2 separate regions of the Homo sapiens genome follow, and region 1 is linked to region 2. Evidence: fine-mapped expression QTL. A gene starts in region 2. The other region holds a variant in brackets. All regions are shown on one strand. Distances are from middle to middle. Region 1 overlaps HERC3 (HECT and RLD domain containing E3 ubiquitin protein ligase 3). Region 2 holds the start of HERC3 (HECT and RLD domain containing E3 ubiquitin protein ligase 3).

Evidence for each region. PIP is the estimated chance that this variant, and not a neighbour inherited with it, causes the effect.
Region 1: its variant is the best candidate, but not a certain one, in a credible set for the expression of HERC3 in whole blood (TOPMed, PIP 0.66).

What each region holds. Positions count from the first base shown.
Region 1 is chr4:88,689,676-88,692,591 of GRCh38, reverse strand. All of the region lies in intron 23 of HERC3 (HECT and RLD domain containing E3 ubiquitin protein ligase 3), which reads right to left. Among named protein-coding and RNA genes, the nearest start is that of NAP1L5, 6.7 kb to the left of the region's middle. The variant A/G (reference allele first, on the strand shown) is at 1,299.
Region 2 is chr4:88,590,985-88,593,900 of GRCh38, reverse strand. HERC3 (HECT and RLD domain containing E3 ubiquitin protein ligase 3) reads right to left here and starts at 1,421. Exons shown (of 26, transcript NM_014606.3): 1 at 1,327-1,421. RefSeq lists silencers at 396-805, 1,126-1,685, 1,856-1,915.

The DNA.
Region 1 (2,916 bases), 99 kb before region 2:
ATACAATGCAGATCTTAAAGACTGCATCCCTCAGAAACTATCCTGAAAGATCAACTGAAGTCTGCCAGCGGTCCTGAAGTAGATCTTAAGGAGCAAGAAGTGTTTGTCATGCATGAGTTTTATTCTCAGGTTCTCACTACGGAATCTAGATGCCCTTTGAAGCACTTACCTTAAGTTTGGCATTTCTTACTATGTGATCTCTTTACTCTACTCTCTGCCCCCCACTGCCCCACCCCCCAGCCCCATGTGTGTGTCATCTGTTTCTTTTTTAATATGGGGAAAATGGGAAGACAGCAATTGCATTTAATTTGATTGCATCAAATTAAGGTAAATTTTAGGGAATCTAGAATGACATATGGGTTTTTCACTAATGGTAATTAACACCATATTATAGACCATAAGAAATGCTTAACCATGAGTAGTCATGTGATATAGTATTATCCAGATGTGACTACCAGCTGGTGGCAAGATTTGTCTATGATGCAGCCACCAGTAATCAGCCACAGATGTTCTTTTACCTGGATGCCTACAACTCATTTGACTGTGTAGGTTCTGTCCAAGGATAGAAAGCATTTTAAAACCAAATGAAATGGAATAAATTATGAATACAGAATTGGTATTCCTCTGGCATTTTCCCCTGGGGCAGCAATGCCAGCAAATATCTTACTGTTAACAAAAACAGCCTCAATGCCAGAAGTATCTGTGTATACAACTGCCTAAGTTAAAAGGCCAGTAGGTATTCTTCTTACAGCTATTTCATTTTCTTAGTCATATAATTTAGGACTGCTAATGACTACATTATGGCATATAGCCAAGGAAATAATGACTATAATGATCAATCTTTTACAACTTCATACAGCCTTTCTTACCAGGACCTCAATGTACTTTGTTGGTAAGATTTCTATTTTGTGCAGCATAAAATGAAAAGAAAAAAAAATTCATTCATGTCTTTTTCTGGTGGTCCCTAACCAAAACAGCTATAGTAAAGAGTACAGCAGTAACCATGAATGGGACTGGTGTCCTTATAAGAGTCATGAGAGCTTGCTTCCCAACGCTGCTCTCCACCATGCTAGGATACAACGAGAAGTCAGCAGTCTGCAACGTGGAAGAAGGCCCTCGCCAGAACCTAACCATGCTGGCAGCCTAATCTTGGACTTCCGGCCTCCAGAACATGACAAATACATTTGTGTTGTTTATAAGCCATCCAGTTTATCGTACTTTTTTACAGCAGCCCAAAGACAAACAGGTAACTGTGACAGCAACAGGGTCTCCTGCCTGTCACTGAGTGACACAGACAT[A/G]TACATCAGTGCCTAAAGTAGCATGGATGAGTTCACAGTGTATTCAATGAGTACTCTGAAAAACCGAAATCTAAATTTCTACCTAGTACAGAAGCTGTTCTGTACATCTTGAACACAGTAAAATGCAATCAAAATTTCTGTCTGAAACGACAACTCAGATTTTTCCATCCCTTTACAGAGCACCTTTCATGTTTATATCCTCTTCTCTACTTTCTAGTATCCAAATCTTAGTAGGCTTCCAAACTTAGCTCTATCCCATATCTGTCCTCCCAGATGCATCTGTCCAAGCTGACTTCTCTGAACGCCTTCAGATTCAACCACCCAATTTAGTCTTCATATTCCATTTATGGTTGCATCTGGATACAGCTTATCACCCTAAACAAACTGTGTTATATTTTACTATTCCTGCAGTTTCTCCCACAACTGTTGAGTCAATTCAATTGTTGATTCAAAGAAATGTCTGTTGAATAAGGAGAAAGACAGTGAGAGTGACAGGGAGAGAGAAATGGAGAAACAGAAAGGGAGAAAAATTCAGACTCAGAAAGAGAACAAAAAAGACAGAGACAAAAAATATGCTAAGAGAAATAACTTGACAAAGATATGAAAAGGAGTAATAAGGCAGTTCTGGCCACTGCCTCAATTGCAGACTACATTGCCAATTGCCTATTCCTGCACTAGGTCATTCATTTCCCCAGCCACTGTATCATACTCACAGAGCACTATGATGACTCAGCAGAGGATGAGGACACTCTGAATGTTCCCCTTCCTCAGGATGCTTGCCTATCCCATTGTTAGCTTCTAACAAATGATGCACACATTATCTTGTCTGAAACTTAATGCAAAAGCTAAGACATTGTTTGAAAGACTAAAGGTTACGTATGTATCTACATACGTACTCACACGCATCTACAATGTTATAAAGCAATCCCCAAAACCAGGAGGGAAGGGAAATCAGCTGGGCTAACAAATCTGCTTTATGATCTGCCATAAATTTCCCAATTCTAAAAACATTATCTGACTATATGGAATAAAAAGCCTGGTCTTATTAAGGAAATAAACATCCTGAAGATAAATTATTTACTGTTAACAAAAGTACCAATGTTATATAAAGGAAACTGCTTTTAGCCCCAAGAGATTCTTATCAAGGGTTTTGATTGCAACATTCTTACTTGAATCAAGACTAGCCTCTATATTAGGTTTCTAGAGCCAAGATAATTCCATCAACTGAAGCCAGTTTTGTTGGGTGTCTGGGTGGCTTCTGCATCATTTCACTCAACTCTGATACTATAGCTCACTTTCCCCAAAGCTGAGGCTTCTTGGATAGTCTGGAAGGTTAACATGACAAAAAAAAAATGGTTAATGAATGATGTATGAGATCATACTAGCTTCGAGTCGTTTGTTAAAATGTCAAGGATGGGCCAGGAGCGGTGGCTCATGCCTGTAATCCCAGCACTTTGGGAGGCCGAGGCGGGCAGATCAGCTCAGGTCAGGAGTTCGAGACCAGTCTGGCCAACATGGCAAAACCCCATCTCTACTAAAAATACAAAAATTAGCCAGGCATGGTGGTACACGCCTGTAATCCTAGTTATGCGGGAGGCCGAGGCAGAAGAATCACTTG
Region 2 (2,916 bases):
ACTCCCTCCTCCCCCAGGGTAAAGGAAAGTACAAAAGGAGAGAGCTTCACAGTAATCTGCCGACTAAAACATGATACCCGATCACCGCATTTAAAACTTTTTATTTTTTCATTTCTCTCAAGTCTAGAGTTGAAAAATCAGCTCACTTGATCTTATCTAATCATCAAATAAAAGGTTCTAGAAATAGCTTCTTATTTGTGGAAAGAGCCAGAAGACACATACAAATGGAAGAGAGCTCTTGAATCGTCTTTCCCAAAGCATTCTATGCGTGATGAATGCAAGCAAAATCCTGGAAGGCTTTTCTCTGAATTAGGTACTTCCTAATTGAGCTCATTTGAAAGCTGATGTAAAATGCAATCAGAAAGCAGCCAGAAACAGTGACAGACCAACAGCAAAGTTCAAATACTTATTCCCTGGAGCTCATGCTGCATACACATATTCCGTGCACAGTCGCATTAGGTACTGTCTCCATAGGCTCACCTGTTTCAGGTTACACATGCTCCTCTCGGTCTGGTTGCCCTGGTTTGCCCACTCCACACATTCACAAATGACTCAAGTCTCACCTGCCCCCGGCCGTCCCAGCTCCTGACACCCCCGCGTCGGTCCGCACCGACGTGTCGGCGTACACACACACACACACCCGTACACACGTGTCCGCACACACCCTCGCCCCCGGCCCCGCCCAGGAGGCGGACCCGGGAGAGGCGAGCCGGCCCGGCCTCCGCGAAGTGGGTGGTGCCGGGCCCCGCAGCCCTGCCGGCGCTGTCATCGCGGACGCCGTGCACCGCGTCCTCGGCGCAAACTCCTCGCGGCCGCTGAGGTTCCCCAAAATGCCAGGGCCTCGCCAGCTCCCATTTCAATTGAAAGCGTCCGCGCCCCTCACTGCACGGAGGTCCCTGGAACCCCAGAATTTAAATAGGGGCAGGGGGCGAGCATAGGGACTATCCTCCTTTTGACTTTCTGCGTCGCAATTCCTCCCGGGCGGCAGGGCGGGAGGGCGGCCGAGCGCGGGCGGGAGGCGCTCCCATTTTGAAGGCTTGTCTCGCCTTTCCCGGCGCGGGGCTCTCTGACCGGAGGGCGAGCCCACGAGAACGCCAGGGAGGCGTACGCAGGGTACTAAGGGCGCCGCGCCCCAACCTCCCCGCGCCCCAGACCCAGGTCGTCTCTGGAGGTGCCTGCAGCCCCCGCCGCCGGAGCCACGGGAGGAGCCGCAGCCGCCCCTCCGGGAGCCGCGCGCTGACTGCAGTGCCAGGCGGAACGCGGCCCAGCGCGGCTGCAGCTCCGCCGTACCCCCCTCCCTGGAACCCCGGCCCCCGCCCTGCGCACCTCGGCAGCAGCCGAACCGCAGCTTGGGACTCCGACTGTCACAGCCCCTCTCGCCGGACCCGGGGTTTCTCCGTTTTCGGCGTCACAATAATAAGGAAGTTTCCCCGCAAGCCTGCGGGCGGCGGAATGCGCTGGGTGAATGGCTTCGCACCGGGCCAATGGGCGCCGTTCTGGGATGGGCCCGCGCCAATGGCGGCCGCCGTGGCACGGGCTGGAGGCGGGGCGGCAAGGTCCGCGGGCAGGAGGAGGGGAGAGGCCCAGGCCCCAGAGCCAGGCGCAGGCTGCCCGAGGTGACAGGACTCGAGGGCCCGGCGCGGGGACAGCGGCACGGGTGTGTCAGCCGAAATCGGACTGCAAGACATAGAGCGTTGACGCTGAAATAAGATTGCTTTTCACTGGCGGGGAAGCGAGCTGGACCGATCAGCGGTTGCCTATTCAGGTTCTGGACTCTGGTTTTTATTATTTATGAAGAGGTGACCGAAAGCCTTGGGCACGGGGGAAAAAGCTGGAGGGTGACAATTGAGGGAGAGTGCGCTAGTCTTCTGCTTTACTCCCCTTCGTAGGACTGTAGGAAGCGCGGCGCCGGCCCGCGGCGCTGCGCGGTGGGAGAGGCGGGGAAGGAGGTACGCGGCAGCCGCCGGCGCTCTTCTGGAGAGGTGGGGATCGAAGACCGGCACGGGGCTGCGGAAGAAAGGCGGGCCTGGGGGAGGCTGGAGGGTGGACCCGGGGGGAGCATAGCAAGAAGAGTCTGAGCACCAGATCTTAAAATCTTGTAATCTGAAAGACACTCTGTGGCCTATACCCAGTAACGGATTTTTTAAAAGTTTGTCCTCTTCCACTTTTCCCTAGCGCCGAATCCCAGAGCTTCCTCCCCCTCCCCAAGGTCACTAGTGCTTTCATACTTGCCCTAGACCTGATCTGATCCACAGCTAATCTTTTGCAGAAAACCTCAGAAAGGTGACTTCATGTGTCTGCCCCCCTTAAATGTAAAATGCAGAACACTGGCACGGTACTGCTTTAATCCAAAGGAATAACTCTCCCAGTGGAAGAATTTCTATAACCTGGCATTTGAAGCAGGAAGGCCCTTTGAGGATAGATTCTTACCAAGGACATTCAAATCACCTCAGGTCTGCAATCGCTCGTCCTGAGAACCTAACAGACTGACCAAGTAGAAAAGAAAGTTTCAAGGAGTGGTGTATCCTGGGGATGAGACGTTGTTGGCTGACTGACAGTGTTGAGCCCTCCGTGAAATAATGCAAATTGTCCAGTACACTGAGACAAGAAAGCTAAAAAAGCAGAATCTAAGTTATCAGGTCATCTAAGAAAAAATCCAAACCTTTGAAATTTGGATCACACTTGACACGTTTAGAAACACTGGGGATGGCCAGGCGCGGTGGCCCATGCCTGTAATCTCGGCACTTTGGGAGGCCGAAGCCGGTGGATCACTTGAGGTCAGCAGTTCGAGACCAGCCTGGCCAACATGGTGAAACCTTGTCTCTACAAAAAAAAATACCAAAATTAGCCGAGTAGGGTGGTGTGCGCCTGTAGTCCCAGCTACTCAGGAGGCTGAGGCAGGAGAATCACTGGAAC